2 separate regions of the Homo sapiens genome follow, and region 2 is linked to region 1. The links come from fine-mapping of genetic effects on gene expression. A gene starts in region 1. The other region holds a variant in brackets. All regions are shown on one strand. Distances are from middle to middle.

Region 1 (8,548 bases):
ATATTGCAAGTTGAGAAAGTGAGAGACCAGAGCAAGAGGAGGTCACAACAAGATAAAAAGGTGGGGGCCGTTATGGAGCCCAGGGAAAGGAGGGCTGGACAAGAGACTCCGTCCATGTTTCTCTAGCACTTTCCAGGAGAATAAAGCTCTTGTTCTAGCACTCTCCTCCTTTGGACCTATCTGTAGAGAGCAGAAAAGTGACCACGAGGCTCTGTTGCATGATAAACAACCCCTTAAAAACCACCAACTTTCCATGGTCTTCCAGCAACCCATTTGGATGTCGTCCCTACAGTTGACTCCTTCAGTCCCTGTGTGTGTCCTCTGCGTGCCCCTGGCCCCCTGCCTTCCCTTAGCTGTGCTGCACAGAAAACCGCCCCAGCTCTTGGGTCAAACAGATCCCATAAGAAACATCAGAAGAAGCATCCTGGCTTACAAGTTATTTTTTGGTGAGTGCAATGGGCGTGCCGTGCTCCTCCAGGCCTGACCACCTGTATGAGAGTTGGCAGGAGGACATTTCTAAACTCACACTCTTAGGGCAGTAGAGATGGGGCCTAAGACCTTTGTCTCTCCTGGTATCAGTGAGCCCCGTGTAGCCCCTTTTCCTTATTCCAGGTCTGGAAGCTGCAGTCACAGACACACAAAGGTGCTGGGGCTTGCACATTCACCAGCGTCACTTTCTCCAGCCACACCACTACGTTTGAGGGCTCTCCTGTCCTTCTCTAACAGAACTAGTCTGGGACTAGACGCCAGGCTTTGGGCTAAGTACTTGATGTGTCTTCACTTATTAAATCCTTCCAATAACCCTTCAAGTTAGGTACCATTATTATCGTCATCAACCTCATTTTATAGAGAAGGAAACTGAGGTGCAGAGAAATTCAGGTTGAGGTTCACAGCAAATAAGCAGTGGAGGCCAAGTGTGCCCCCAGGTGGACCCAAATCAAAGCCACACTGTTACCTTCTGCTCTGCGCTGCCTCCCGGGGCAGTAGCCCTCGTGAGCCTCCCCACGTTGGGGTGTCTAATGAAAAGCTTCCCTGCTGGTTGAGCTGAAGGGGTCAGGGTCGGGGCTGTACAGAGAAACTCAGGCCACAAGGGCCTTTGGGCAGAACTGGGGTCACAAAGTAATCATGGTTTCCCAGCGAACACAAGACTTTGGCCCTCAGGCAAGGCTCCTTGATGTCTGGGGGAGCCTGTGCCCCCCAGCAGTGCTCACAGATCCACCCCTGACTGCCAGCCGGCCCCTTGATGGCGGTGCCTGTCTCAGATTCTGTGGTCAGTGCCACGCAGCTACCTCCAGAGGCAGCCTGCAGCCTGGCCATGTGGCCCCAAGCTCCAGGCTAGAGGCCAAGGGGAGTGTCCCTTCTCTCTCTGTGTCACCCAGGGCATAGGTCACCCAGGCAGCCTGGCATGGTGCCTCCAAGCCACTGTGCTAATGCTTCTACAGCTTCTGCTCCCTCCCTGCCTCCATGGGGCCCAAACCTAGCCCTGGTGCTGCTCTGGGAACTGGGTCAGAGCAGCACCCCAGCTCCCCCACCCCCAGGAGCCCCTCAACCTTGGCCTGCTGTCATCCTCGTCCGGCCCCAATCTTCCTGCAAATCGGGCCCTTGCAGGATTCCTGCTGACTCAGCAGCTGGGCCCGGACAGGACTTAGTCCCAGCGTGAGCCGATCCCGCTGCAGTTTGGGCGAGAATGACAAGCCCTCCACCAGACGATTCTTTATTGCTCTGAGACTTCCCTGGGATAATTCCACCCCCAGGAGCACTCTATCTGTTTCTGTCTCCTCCCCACACACCCCCTGGCCTTGAAAAAGGATGATCACTGACCACAGGCACTGAAAAGAGCAAACCAAGAGCAGCATCAATACCCTCACACAGTGGTGCACATAACACACTTTGAGTTTCTGACTTTTCCTAATCAGTTCTTCCTGCTAAAATACAGTAGCTTAACAAAAACAATGACAACAACAATCTGGTGTTTGCCATTTACAAGGCACTTTCTGTGTGAGTAGCATGACATGGTAAAAGAGAAAGAGATGAATTATAAAACGCAGCAAGATCATGAGTCAATGATTCACCCTGTCCCAGCCTGCTTCTTTTTTTTTTTTTTTGAGACAGAGTCTTGCTCTGTCACCAGGCTGGAGTGCAGTGGCGCGATCTCAGCTCACTGCAACCTCCGCCTTCCGGGTTCAAGCGATTCTCCTGCCTCAGCCACCCGAGTAGCTGGGACTACAAGTGTGCGCCACCATGCCCAGCTAATTTTTGTATTTTTAGTAGAGATGGGGTTTCACCATGTTGGCCAGGATGGTCTCGATTTCTTGACCTTGTGATCTGCCCGCCTCGGCCTTCCAACCGAGCCTGCTTCTTTTCTTGTAAAATGGAAGAGTCATAACATCCAACTTGAGTCTTGATATTTTAATGAAATAATGCATGGGAAAGCAGAAAACAGCACAAAGATTACTGGTTATAAGAGCTAAATCACTGTGACTCCATATCCAAATTCAATACCTACTGAATCAGTGGTTTCTGACTAGTCAATTTTTTTTCTTTTTTTCTTTTTTTTTTTGAGACAGAGTCTCGGCTGGGTGCAGTGGCTCACACCTGTAATCCCAGCTCTTTGGGAGGCCGAGGCGGGCAGATCACTCGAGATTAGAAGCTGGAGACCAGCCTGGCCAACATGGCAAAACCCTGTCTCTACTGAAAATAAAAAAATTATCCAGGCATGGTAGCACGTGCCTGTAATCCCAGGTACTCGGGAGGCTGAGGTGGGAGAATTGCTTGAACCTAGGAGGCGGAGGTTGCAGTGAGCCGAGATTGTGCCATTGCACTCCAGCCTGGGCGCCAGAGCGAGACTCCATCTCAATTAAAAAAAAAAAATAGGAGAGAGACAGAGTCTCACTCTGTCTTCTAGGCTGGAGTGCAGTGCTGTGATCTCAGCTCACTGCAGCCTCCACCTCCTGGGCTCATGCAGTTCTTGGGCCTCAATCTCCCAAGTACCTGGAACTACAGGCACACATCACCATGCCTGGTTAATTTATTATTTTTTGTAGAGACGTGGTTTCACCATATTGGCCAGGCTGGTCTTGAACTCCTGAGCTTGAGCGATCCTCCTGCCTTGGCCTCCCAAAGTGCTGGGATTACAGGCATGAGCCCCCATGCCCGGCGACTAGCCAATTTTTTAAAAATTACATTTTCTAGAGGTGTCATTTTTACTGGGAAAAACACAGTGACACCATTCAAGAAAAAATTGAACGGTAACTTTAATCACTACATTAACACAATTTTAAAGGTTGATCTGCATCATACATACCTTTTAAAGAATGTTTTCATCATATGTAGACAGCTTTTTTTGTTTTTTGTTTTTGTTTTTGTTTTGAGGCAGAGTCTCGCTCTGTCACCAAGGCTGGAGTGCAGTGGTGTGATCTGGGCTCACTGCAACCTCCGCCTCCCGGGTTCATGCCATTCTCCTGCCTCAGCCTCCCAAATAGCTGGGCCTACAGGTAGGTGCCACCACGCCCAGCTAATTTTTGTATTTTTAGTAGAGACGGGGTTTCACCATGTTAGCCAGGCTGGTCTCGAACTCCTGACCTCGTGATCCACCCACCTCAGCCCCCCAAAATGTTGGGATTACAGGCCTGAGCCACCACGCCTGGCCATAGGCAGCTTTTAAAAGAACACATGTGCAGCCTGGCCATCATGGTGAAACCTGTCTTTATGAAAAATACAAAAATCAGCTGGGCATGGTGGCACCTGCCTATAATCCCACTTGCTTAGGAGGTTGAGGAGGGAGGATCGCTTGAGCCCTGGAGGCGGAGGCTGCTGTCCAGCCTGGGCGACAGAGCAAGACTCGGTCTCAAATAGAAAACAAAACAAAACAACAACAACAACAACAACAAACCATGTGTGATTCCAAGCAAATCAGAGAATCTCTAGCCACCAGAAAAACCTTGAGGCATGTACTGAAAGGAAGAGGTCAGAATTCTCTGCGAGGAGCTCAGAGGATCCTGAGGGAAGAGAGAAGGCGGCTGCGCTTGGACACAGCTCCGAGCTCGTGCTCCCTCCTTCAGGCACCCAAGTCTGAGTTGCTAAAAAATGGAGCTGTCACTGGGCCTTGCTCTGCCAGGACCTGCAGAGCCGGGGACCTCTCTGTGGCAAGCCCAGCAAGATGACTGCTCTGAGGCGCCCTAGGGCTGAGGGAGGGGCCGTGACACCAGCCCCGCCCCCCAGCCACCTGGGAAAAGGAAGCACAAAAAGGAGAAGCAGCAACGGCTGCTCTGCTTCCTTCCCATCTCGCTCTTGGGTCATGCCTGGCCAGCAGAAAGCAGCTCCATAGGGGAGGAGAGCCACGCAGGATCTCACAGCTGCAGTCTAATAGTAACACAGAGGTAATTTTAACTTTTTACTTTTCTACCCTTGGGAGTAGGGATGAGTAGAGGCTTACCTCCTTCCAGAGGCAGCTCATATCCCCCCACCCCCATTCCCGGAAGTTGAGATGTCTCTTCTCTGTTCCACGCAGGCATCGTCTAAGTTGGGAACAGGTCTTATGTCTTAAAATTTGGGATTCTTTAAAAACATATGTGGCTGGGCACAGTGGCTCACGCCTGTAATCCCAGCACTTTGGGAGGCCGGGCAGGTGGATAATTTGAGGTCAGGAGTTCAATACCAGCCAGGCCAACATGGTGAAACCTCGTCTCTAATATAAATACAAAAAGTAGCTGGGTGGTAGTAGTAGCTGTAATCCCAGGTACTCGGGAGGCTGAGGCAGGAGAATCCCTTGAACCTAGGAGGCGGAGGTTGCAGGGAGGCAGAGGTTGTGATGAGCCAAGATTGCACCACTGCACTCCAGTCTGGGTGACACAGTGAGACCCTGTCTCAAAACAACAACAAAAATGTGTGATGGCACATGCCCATAGTCCCAGCTACTGGGGAGGCTGAGGTGGGAGGATGGCTTGAGCCTGGGAAGTCGAGGCTGCAGTGAGCTGTGATCATGCCACTGCAGTCCAGCCTGGGCGACAGAGTGAGACCCTGTCTCAAAACAAAACAAAACAAAACAAAACAAAAAAACCCAAAAACAAACAAAAAAGCACATGTGGAGTGTTGTAGAAGTCATTGACCTTGGTAAGACAGTGGAGGAAACTGCTTTGCTCTGACTCATAAATTTGCCCCCAGTAAACAGTATTTATAAATAGCCCCAGTCAGGCACTGCATGAAGACATTTCAGTCAACGACAGACCACATATACAACGGTGGTCCCATAAGATTATAACAGAGCTGAAAAATTCCTATTTTTCAGCTTAGTGTTGTGGTGCAACCACTACCTTTTCTATGTTTAGATACACGAATACTTAGCACTGTGTTACAATAGCCTACAGTACCCATTACAGGAATGCTGTACCGGTGTGTAGCCCAGGAGCAATGGGCCATACCATATAGCCTAGGTGTGGAGTAGACTAGACCATCCACGTTTGTGTAATTACAATCTATGATTTTGTAAAATGATGAAATTGCCTAATGAAGCATTTCTCAGAATGTGTCCCCGTCATTAAGTGACACCTCACTGTGTTTCCAAGACATAGTACTGGTCCTTGGGAAGCTCTAAAGAGAGGTCACCGTGAGCTGAACCATCCTTCTCACTCTGTGCATGGAACCCAGCTTAGCTTCCATTTCAGCATTTAGGCTTATAGGAGGAGAAGAGGTTAGAAGCCACAGACCAGCAAGAATTGAAGACATCGTTCTGTAATTTCTACTGAACCAGCTCTGTCTGACTGGAACTTCATTTTGCCTCTTTGCTTTAACTCCTCAGGAATGTCTTCCAGGAGGCCCCTGATCTTCTCTGCTCAGGGACCACTCTTATCTGACCCAGAGACAGGTTAGCTGATGGTGACTCACACATCCTCACTTCCTTCAAAGCCCAGGCATCTGTTTAAAATCTGACCCTGTGAAGACTTTTCCTGTTTTGGAAAAACTCTTCCGTTGTTTGCCTGCACAGATTTGTGCTCCATTTTTAATTTCAATTTTTGTAGAGAAGGCGGGTCCTTGCTTTGTTGCCTCGGCTTGTTTGAAACTCCTGGGCTCAAGTGATCCTCCTGCCTTGGCCTCCCACAGTGCTGGGATTACAGGTGTGAGCCACTGCACCAGGATGGATTTGTCTTCCTTCAGAAGACAGTAGCTGATGTGTGCCCTGGCCTTTCTCCCCTAGGATTCAGCAGTGGCCACCATGGGTTCTGTGAATTCCAGAGGTCACAAGGCGGAAGCCCAGGTGGTGATGATGGGCCTGGACTCGGCGGGCAAGACCACGCTCCTTTACAAGCTGAAGGGCCACCAGCTGGTGGAGACCCTGCCCACTGTTGGTTTCAACGTGGAGCCTCTGAAAGCTCCTGGGCACGTGTCACTGACTCTCTGGGACGTTGGGGGGCAGGCCCCGCTCAGAGCCAGCTGGAAGGACTATCTGGAAGGCACAGATATCCTCGTGTACGTGCTGGACAGCACAGATGAAGCCCGCTTACCCGAGTCGGCGGCTGAGCTCACAGAAGTCCTGAACGACCCCAACATGGCTGGCGTCCCCTTCTTGGTGCTGGCCAACAAGCAGGAGGCACCTGATGCACTTCCGCTGCTTAAGATCAGAAACAGGCTGAGTCTAGAGAGATTCCAGGACCACTGCTGGGAGCTCCGGGGCTGCAGTGCCCTCACTGGGGAGGGGCTGCCCGAGGCCCTGCAGAGCCTGTGGAGCCTCCTGAAATCTCGCAGCTGCATGTGTCTGCAGGCGAGAGCCCATGGGGCTGAGCGCGGAGACAGCAAGAGATCTTGATCCAGACAGAGCAGCATATCTTTGCTCATACAAACTAGAAGAACCAGCTGATCCTTGAGAAATTTACGCTTAGTCTATCAAACAAGAAATGCTGGCTTGGCCCGGTGGCTCATGCCTGTAATCCCAGCACTGTGGGAGACCACGGTGGGGGAATCCCTTGAGCCCAGGAGTTGGAGAGCAACATCACAACACCCCATTTCTACTAATAATCAAAAAATTGGCCGGGCATGGTGGCATGTGCCTGTAGTCCCAGCTACTTGGGAGGCTGAGGCAGGAGAATCGCTTGAGCCCAAGAGGTAGAGGTTGCAGTGAGCCAAGATCGCGCCACTGCACTCCAGTCTGGGCAACAGAGTGAGACCCTGTCTCAATAATAATAATAATAATAATGATGATACTCTAAGAAAAAAATCTCAACATACTTCATTTAATAGCTCGTTACCAAGTGTGAATGAAGCAATATGTCATAATAGAGTAGCCACTGGTTGCATAATAATAGAGACCTAAATTCTCAAATAGGGAAAGAGGTTTTAAAATCAAATTTGAGGCCAGGTGCAGTGGCTCATGGGCGGAGGAGGGCAGATTACTTGAGGCTAGGAGTTCAAGACCAGCCTGGCCAACATGGTGAAACCCCATCTCTACTGAAAATACAAAAATTAGGCATAGTGGTGCACGCCTGCAGTCCCAGCTACTCAGGAGGTTGAGGCAGAAGAATCGCTTGAACCCAGGAAGTGGAGGTTGCAGTGAGCCGAGATTGTGCTGCTGCACTCCAGCCTGGGTGAAAAAGACAGGCTGTGTCTCCAAAAAGAAAAAAAAAAGTCAAATTCAAATATCATCTGGACATGTCACAATGGATCGCGGATCCTTATGAGTGATTTTCCCCAGTGGCCCCTGGGGATGTGCCACTGTCACTCAGAAGGGCAAGCTAGGCAGGGCCCATACAACAGCAGGGGTCTGCAGGTTAGACGTTCCCTGCCCTGGGACGCTCACCCCTGGGCAAGAGGCTGGAAGTTCACACCATCCAAAATTTATCCTTGTTTTTTTTCTGATGCTAATTAGCCTCTCCCGATTTTATGACATCTTGTGTTGATCTTTTTCAAAAACTCATTTTCTTTTTTTTCCTTCTCTTTTCTCCTTCTTGTAGCACATATCTTTCGTTAAAGATCAGATCAATAAAATATTTTATTTATTCATTAATTTAACAAAAAAAACAGAGCATTTAGTTTGTGGCAAAAACACTGAGCTTTCGAATATGAATCATGTGCTTTAGGTGGGAATTGTGAATTCTGAAGATACAGATGACAGTGACGAATGCCTTCTGTCTCATGATTGACAGGGAAAAGGAAGGTTGACCATAGCATCCTAGAAGGCTCATCAGGTGATCATTACCTAGCATCCATGAAGCACCTGAAATTATTTGCAAAATGTTACGCTTTGGACCATTTTTCCGGGGAAGGAGATCCAGAACTTTTTACCAGATTTTCAAAGACATCTGTGACTCCCAAAAGTTAACAATCACTGATGTGGTTGTTGTATCCCTCATCCAACCCCAGAACACTTTCTGTAATCTGAGTTTTTTAATGGCAAGTGGCCTATATTTAGCACCTGTTCTCATGTTAAACAGCTCTGAATGTTAGATATTCTTTCTTATCCTGGACTGGTTCTCTCTATCTCTGGAGTAATGCAGTATAAATTGGCCATCAGTACCCTCCTAAAATCTGAGATCTGCCAGGCCCCTCTTCTAACACC
Region 2 (8,548 bases), 94 kb before region 1:
TAGTGGCAAGTAAGTGAGAGCACGCAAAGCCCAGGGGGAACTGCCATTTATAAAACCATCAGATCTCATAAGAACTCCCTCAATAGCATGAGAACAGCATGGGGAAACCGCCCCCATAATCCAATCACCTCCCAACAGGTCTCCCTCAACAACTGAGGATTACAATTCAAGATAAGTTGGGTGGGGACACAGAGCCAAACCACATCATCCTATTTGGTTTTCTCTCACTGACTGTTATGAAAAGCTCTTTATAAGTATCTCATTGTGTTGTTAATTCCTAAACCTATCTCCCTCTCTCCTAATAATTCATATGTTCTTTGAGGATAGGGAATATGCCTTTCCCTTCAAGTACCCCCAAAGGTACAGACACATTTTTCTACTGTGCCAGTTCAACTGTACTACCCTTCAGCAGGAATAAAATCCAAAGATTTCTATGATGTTTGTTTGTGTATAGTTGAGAATCAAGCAGTTGACATGTTCATGCTGGTACCTATTTTTAGCCTGATACCCATTAAGAATCACACCACTGATTTTTTTTATTATGGTAAAATATATATATAACCTAAAATTTGCCATCCCAATCATTTTTAAATGTATGGTTCAATGGCATTAAACATTCATTTTTGTGCAACCATCACCACCATGCACCTAAAGCAGCAGTCCCCAACCTTTTTGGCACCAGGGACTGGTTTCGTGGAAGACAATTTTTCCACGGACCATGGGGATGGGGCGGTTGGTCAGGGGTGGGGAGGATGGTTTTGGGATGAAATTGGTCCACCTCAGATCACCAGTCATTAGATTCTCATATGGAGCACACAACCTAGATCCCTTGCATACTCAGTTCACTGTAGGGTTTGCACTCCTATGAGAATCTAATGTTCTAATGTTGCCACTGATCTGACAGGAGGCAGAACTCAGGCAGTAATGCTCACTCATCCGCCACTCACCTCCCGCTGTGCGACCTCTTCCTAACACGCCAGGGATGAATATGGGTCTGTGGCCCGAGGGTTGGGGACCCCTGACCTAAAGGACTCTTCATCTTGGAAAACTGAAACTCTGTATCCATTAAACAAGTTCCCCATTCTCCTCTCCCCTCAGACCCTGGCAATGACCATTCTACTATGTCTCAATGAATTTGACTAAGTATATCACACAAATGGCATCACATAGTATTTTTCTGTGAGTGGCTTATTTCACCCAGCATAATATCCTCAAGTTCACCTCTGTGCACCATGTGTCAGAATTTCTTTCCTTTTTAAGGCTGCAGACTACTGATTTTGAAGGAAAAAAACAACTCTATGTGCCTGTTTTAATGTTACTTTGTTTATTAACATGTCGTTCTAAATATTACATAAATACAGCTTACATACTAGAGTATCAAACATTGTTCCAGTAAGAAGTTCAAGAGTACATTTAGGGCTATCTTAAGAAATATGAATACTTTGGCTTCCATTATTACATTAGATGAAAAAATCAATTCAAATAAGAGTTGTCATATCCTGCTATGATTAACAAAAAAACAAGTAGAAAAATAAGAGAGTGTATTTAAAAAAAATAATCAAATGCTTTTTGAAAGACCTGTTCTCTTCACTGCCACACATATTCATACAAATGACTTAGTAATCTAATATGAGAAGTGGTCCTTCACTTATATTAGGAACTTGGTAAATATTTGTTGAATGAATGAACTATCTATGGATATGAATTTACTACTTTAATTTGTGCTTTTTTTGAAAAAAAGTTTTCAAGTAAGAGCAATAGTAAACATACTGAAGTTCACATTTTGCTCAGATCATAAGCCTATAGAACAGTGATTGTTACAAACACCACCCATCATAGCACAAATCAATGTGCATTTCTGAAGCTAGTAAGAAAAGTTCTATCATGTTGTAGAACGAATTCTAACCGACTAATTCACTGGGCTTCAATCACTTGTGATATGGTCAAGAAAAGGGGGCTGGGGCTCCTAGGCTTGTATCTATTTCAGCTATCAGTGAATTCCTATCTTTAGGGCCTCACTCCCCTTCCCACCCCAATAGACACAAATTTAAAAACATTGCTAAAAATAGTAGTTGTAGCATGTCTTCACCCACTTGTAATTTGGCTCTGAAAATGTATTCAGGCTCCAGGTTCAGAAGAGAGACTTTCCAAGCAGGAGACAAAATTCACTAAGGGAACTCACTCAAATGGAAATGAGTTCATGGACCAGAGAGCAAAGCAAAACATTGCTCTTAAAAGCAAGCTCAACGGACACACATGATGAAACTCACAGTTGAACACTCTTACATCCCAAAGTCACCTTCCATAACCAGTTCAAATAAACTACTGTCTTTTAATAGGATCTTTTCAGGAACACCATAATTTTGGTGCTTTTTCAAGGTGAAATTGTGCTGTTATACCTAAGATGTTTAAAAACAGAGGAAAACCAAAAGTGAAAGATGATAAAGTTTCACATAAGCCAATGTGTGATGGATTTGGCCTAAAGTAGATAAAGCAAATTCCACTAAGTCTTGTAAGAGGGTTGACTTGAAGAACCACTTCTTCCAGTCATATATAGTAGATATGATGATTCAGCAGTCATAATTTAGGAAGGCAAGAGTATACTATACATGTCATTATTTTCCTCTTAAGTTTGCATTTATAGAAGAAGGTGGTGGGGGACAATTTAAACTTGAGTTCTCAAGTTCTACCTTAATGAAATAAAACACCATTGGATAAGTAGTGGAGATTCTAATTTATAAAATATTCACCTTCATCAAATTTCTTTCATTATCAACTTTTCACGGATACTTCTAAATTACTATTCTTTATGCACTTAAATCTTAAGAGAAATCTTGACTAACCTAGAATATTTATCTTTACATAATTATCATTTCAACAGGTTTAATATACGTTAAACTTATTACTTTGATTTATCTTGAAGTTAAAAAAGTCATCAACGCAAGCACACAAACAAAAGTCTGAAACAATCTTAATTATTCCTTCACAGTAAGGCTACTAAACTAGCAACTAAGGCAGCACTTAACAATCCCCAGGTCAGCATCTTTAATTCACGATGGGGCCTCTCCATTCATCTCACAATTCCCCAACTATCACTGCTCCTGCTGTCAGAAGATTGTTGATACGTGGCCCAGGAGAGTTGCTGCCAACTTCCCCTTTCCAAGTTCAGAAGTTCCTCTAATCAAAAATGAAAAGAAGACCAAAAACGACTAACTTTCACCCTTTTACATGTTCCAGCCCAAATTTACGAAAGGTCACATTTAAAATACACTTATCTGGAAACAAGGGTTGTTTAAAATGGGCTCAAGAAAAGCCGTACACCCTTGTTATGTTCCTACACAAACAACTGTGTCCCAGATGTGGAAAAAAACAACCTGATGGTCTTTTACCTGCAGAATCACATCACCCGTAGAGCACAAACTGGACACATCCTCAACAGTGCCCCAGAGCACTCACACAGAACCCAGCAGCCTTGCGCTTCAGTTCTTAAAGGCTCCACATTTACTGGCTTTAGCAATGAATTCCTTTAGCAGAGGGCCATCCATTTGCCAAAATGCTGCAGTCTGTGTAACTTCTGTCAAATGATTGATGCAAAACTTAAAGCAGAATTCTTCTAAATCCTGGACACACAACAAAAATAAAAACAAAAATGGCTTTTTTAGGCAACTTTGATTGAATTACTTCTCTCTGAGCCCTTTACCCCAAATCTCTCACCCTCCCCCAGAAAAGATATTTGAGAGGCCAGATACCTAAAACTAGGCAAAAAGGTGACCACAGGTAGGTGTGAGAAAAACACATACTATTTATTCAACGCAGTAAAAGCAATGGTCCTCTAACTCAAAGTACGACTCTTCAAAACACACACGCGCGCGCACACACACACACACGCAAGATCTACAAGGGAAAGAATTTCCTGCACGATTATCACATAATCTAGTTATGCTCAAAGACATTGTTGTAAAAGGCAGAATGCCACTTTAGTCTGCAGAATGTGTTTTGTCACGTTCAAGACATCAGAGAAAAGAATTAAGATGTGGGTTAGTTTAAGAAACAGAAAGGTAATGAAGAGATATGGTCA[A/G]CCTAAAGTGGCACATTAAAAAGAAAATCCCAGCCGGGCACGGTGGCTCACGCCTGTAATCCCAGCACTTTGGGAGGCCGAGGCGGGCGGATCACTTGAGGTCAGGAGTTCGAGACCAGCCTGGCCAACATAGGGAAACCCCGTCTCTAGTAAAACTACAAAAATTAGCCGGGCGTGGTGGTGGATGCCTGTAATCCCAGCTACTCAGGAGACTGAGACAGGAGAATCGTTTGAGCCTGGGAGGCAGAGGTTGCGGTGAGCCGAGATCGCACCACTGCACTCTAGCCTGGGTGACAGAGCAGAGGCTCTGAAAGAAAATCCCAAAAAATTCACCTTAAATTCACTTTTATGCTCTCCTAATAATGACTTTATTTTTAAAGCCATAAAGAATAATAACACTACAACTTCCACCACACTAATATCTCAGAACATCACCCCCACAGAAGTATATTTACACAGGTTAGTTTTCAGTCAAACAGAAGTCACCAACTACCAACATTCAGGGGAGTAACATCCACAAGGGGTAAACCAGAACCATTTCAAAATCAATCCCTGCCTATGCTAATCCACCCTTTCATCCCCTGCCAAACTTTAATATAGTCTGTCCCTTAGGATGTTGGAATATATATTTATTAAATCGATTAGGCACCTGGAATGCATACAAAGACTCAATATATAAAAGGAAATCACACTAAAAGCTCTTATCACAAATAGCTTGACTTTATTACAACTTGGTTAGCTGGTACATTGAAGGTCAGCACTCCGGGTTCTATCGAACCAGAAGCTCAACATTTCAACTGCAGGTTTTGACCGCACATTTCCAGCTACCACGAGGTGGGAATGTTAGACAGAGTGGAAGGGGCCCACACAAACATGGAGAGACCCCTTTTCTGCTCTCAGCACAGACCTCTGCAAACAATGATTTCCTTGTTCTAAGGGTCCTCCTGTCCCTGGCTAAAAGATGCCCTAGAGTAAACTCCAGAAACCCATCCAGTCACATAACCATTAAGAGATAAACCACAGGCCAGGCGTGGTGGCTCACGCCTGTAATCTCAGCACTTTGGGAGGCTGATGCGGGCAGATCACGAGGTCAGGAGTTTGAGACCAGCTTGACCAACATGGTGAAACCCCGTCTCTACTAAAAATACAAAAATTAGCCAGGTGTGGTGGCAAGCACCTGTAATCCCAGCTACTCAGGAAGCTGAGGCAGGAGAATCGCTTGAACCCAGGAGGCGGAGGTTGCAGTGAGCCGAGATCATGCCACTGCACTCCAGCCTGGGAGACAGGAGTGAAACTCCATCTCAAAAAAAAAAAAAAAGAACTTTTATACACAATATAGGTATAAAAATGGTGCCACTAATCACAATTCACTTTATACACTCATGAAAATGGTTCTATCAAACTGCCTTCCCTTCCCCTCCAATTAGTTTGAACTACTGAGGTATCTGGGTATGCAATAAATATTCAAAAGTTCCAAACATTAAAAGCCAAACTAGAGAATTCTGAAAACAATCTAAATCTGGGTTGTGTAAGTAACTAATTAAACCTTGGTTGAGGCAGATCTATGTAAAAGGAAGCCCTGAACGCATGTGGTGAGGGACGTTTGAATTTGCAAGTTCACCAGAGAGTCGCACAGTCAAGCTGAACCACTTAGCAACCAGTGCCCAGGGTTGGTTTGCCTTTGATGAGCAAGTTAGACAAACGCCCTTCCGACTTGACCTCTCTTTAGTATTATAAGAATCTACATAATCTGTTCCTTTCATTCTGCAAAGGATCAAATCTTCAATAACAGGCAAGAAAATGCAACTCCTGTCCAAGTGAGAAGTCAACTATAACAGGGCTGGTTATAGTTGACTTCTTACTTCTAACTGGGCTTTAAATAAAACAGTTCCAAGGAGGACCAGAAGGATCATGTGACCAGGAGATGAACAAAGTTCCCGACAGAATGAAAGTCCTCTTATAGCCCATGGAATAGGGAAGTGGAGAGTATAAAAACAGAAGGGTCTAATACAGTCTTCTTGGTATTAGAAACTAAACTCTGTTTATGACGTTATGTGGCAGAACAATTATAAAGTGTTCTAAGGCAAATGAGATAAAATACCAGATTTATTGTCATTAGCAAAGAAGACAAAAATAAAAACTGCTCTTCTGAAGTAATTTATAAATCATTCCAAATCTTTCAACATTGAAACTATTCCAATTCAATATATATACTCTGAAAATAAGCTGTTTTTCCTTTCCACAAATTTTCTTTAGTAACAAAACAAAACACAGAGCATTGATGGTCTTAATATCCTCATTTTAAAAAATGCTAATGCCGCCTCTAAGGGAGTTCTTACCCTGTCCTAAAACTCCAAAGCTAAACTAGTTGAATGTTAATAATTTGAAGACCACCTAACCAGGGTGAGCAGGTGCCTCGGCATCACAGCTCCCCACAAGACACATTCCAGATGACACAAGATCACGAACCACACCTAACTCTGTCCAACCTGTTGTTAAAGTAACTGCAAGACAAAACCCCAAAACTGTCAGTCTATAATTCATGTTATAGCACATCAAGTACAAAATATTCCAAATCAAAGAAGTTTTGTTTTGTTCTCAAAATGTACTTAAACATTCTACCATATGGAGAAAACATAATTTATCCCATTACGCAAAAAACATTTGTCAGCCTACTGCTGATCAAAGACTTTTCATTTGGCCCACCAAAAGAAGAAAAAAACGCTGGCCACCAAGCCTTAACACCAAGCTGTCCAATACTCATACCCCAGACCAACTTCAGAATTAGATTCCTGGGCTCACGTTTATCGCTTCCCTCCAAAAGCAAGATCGTAAGATATAAGTTGCTTAGCACACAGGATTTCTGGAAAGTTCTCTACTCTGGTTAAACAAATAATACTTCCCAGCTGTTTCTCTTAACGTTCAAATACACATAAAAATAAAAAATTTCCTGAAAAGAATCAGTTTGCATTGTGCAACTGATCTATCTTGAAACAATGTTTTATCCACATTTTCTCCCTGATGTCAATATTTATTCAGGTCTGTACCAAAGGAGTATCTGGGTGCTCCTTTGTGAAGTCCTTCTTAATAAAACTTGTGGACAGTTTCATAACACGTTCATAGCAAGGGATCCACAATCATCAACTTACTTTTGAAACTCCCTGTAACTACTGAGTCCATACATTTTTGTTGCTTTAATGTGTGTACATTTGCTTCAAAGCTATCTTGTCAAAACGGGGCATGGAGGAACCTCAGGTACTTTCGTAGAAAGACAAGAAACATTGGAAGCAGGTAGTCTCCATCTTCCTAGCATTTTGGCCCACAGCACGAAGGCAAAGTCATCTAGCATCCCCAAGTTGAGCTCTAAAAATAATAGTTTTTGCAGTCAATTTCTAACCTGACTCATCAGTAGCCTCCAATCAACTAATAAACACAGTAAGAGGGCTTTCTTTTTAAGAGATGGCAGTCTCACTATGTTGTCCAGGCTGGTCTCAAACTCCTAGCCTCAAGCAATCCTCCCACTTCAGCATCCTGAGTAGCTAGAATACAGGCATGAGCCACTGTGCCCAGCTATGGATTTTAATTTTGTACTCCAGAACTTCATTCATGTACTCACTGTATCTTGTAGCATTCAGGAAATAAAATGTAAAAGCACATTAGTCAATTACGTAACTTGTATTGTAACCTAAGAAATACACCCTAGAAAGAGGCCTGGCGCAGTGGCTCATGCCTATAATCCCAGCACTTTGGAAGGCTGAGGTGGGAGGGACACTTGAGCCCAGAAGTTCAAGACCAGCCTGGGCAACATAATGAAACCCTGTCTCTACAACAAATAAAAAATAAGAAATTAGCTGGGTGTGGTGGCACACATCCGTAGTCCCAGTTCCTGGACTGGGAAGGAAGGAGGACTACTTGAGCCCAGGAAGTTGAGGCTACAGTGAGCTGTGATCACACCACTGTGCTTCAGCCTGGGCAACAGAACAAGACCCTGTATCACCAGGAAAAAAAAATACATACAAATTATGAATATATATATATACACACACACACACATATATATATATGCCCTAGAAATAAAGAGGTGAGTCTTTCTTTTTGTCTTCTTTCTATTCTCTAATTTTTCTACGTTGAATCTGTAATATTTGTAGGATTTTAAGTTTTTTTTAACTTTTTTTTTTTTTTTGAGACAGAGTCTTGCTCTGTTGCCCAGGCTGGAGTGCAGTGGTACAACTTCTCCCTCCCAGATTCAAGCAATTCTCCTGCCTCAGCCTCCCGAATAGCTGGGATTACAGGTACGCACCACCACACCCAGCTAATTTTTGTATTTTTAGTAGAGACAGGGTTTCACCATGTTGGCCAGGCTGGTCTCAAACTCCTGATCTCAAGTGGCCCACCTTGGCCTCCCAAAGTGCCGGGATTACAGGCGTGATCTCCAAGCCTGGCCATTTTTTTTTTTTTAAGCACACCTTC

What was found. PIP is the estimated chance that this variant, and not a neighbour inherited with it, causes the effect.
Region 2: its variant is the best candidate, but not a certain one, in a credible set for the expression of ARL11 in whole blood (TOPMed, PIP 0.86).

The regions. Positions count from the first base shown.
Region 1 is chr13:49,624,237-49,632,784 of GRCh38, forward strand. It overlaps ARL11 (ARF like GTPase 11), which reads left to right and starts at 4,271. Exons shown (of 2, transcript NM_138450.6): 1 at 4,271-4,379; 2 at 6,194-8,548. The coding sequence starts at 6,212. The coding sequence ends at 6,802. RefSeq lists an enhancer at 4,523-4,572.
Region 2 is chr13:49,530,643-49,539,190 of GRCh38, forward strand. It overlaps RCBTB1 (RCC1 and BTB domain containing protein 1), which reads right to left. Exons shown (of 13, transcript NM_018191.4): 13 at 1,304-3,620. The coding sequence ends at 3,480. Among named protein-coding and RNA genes, the nearest start is that of PHF11, 39 kb to the left of the region's middle. The variant A/G (reference allele first, on the strand shown) is at 4,079.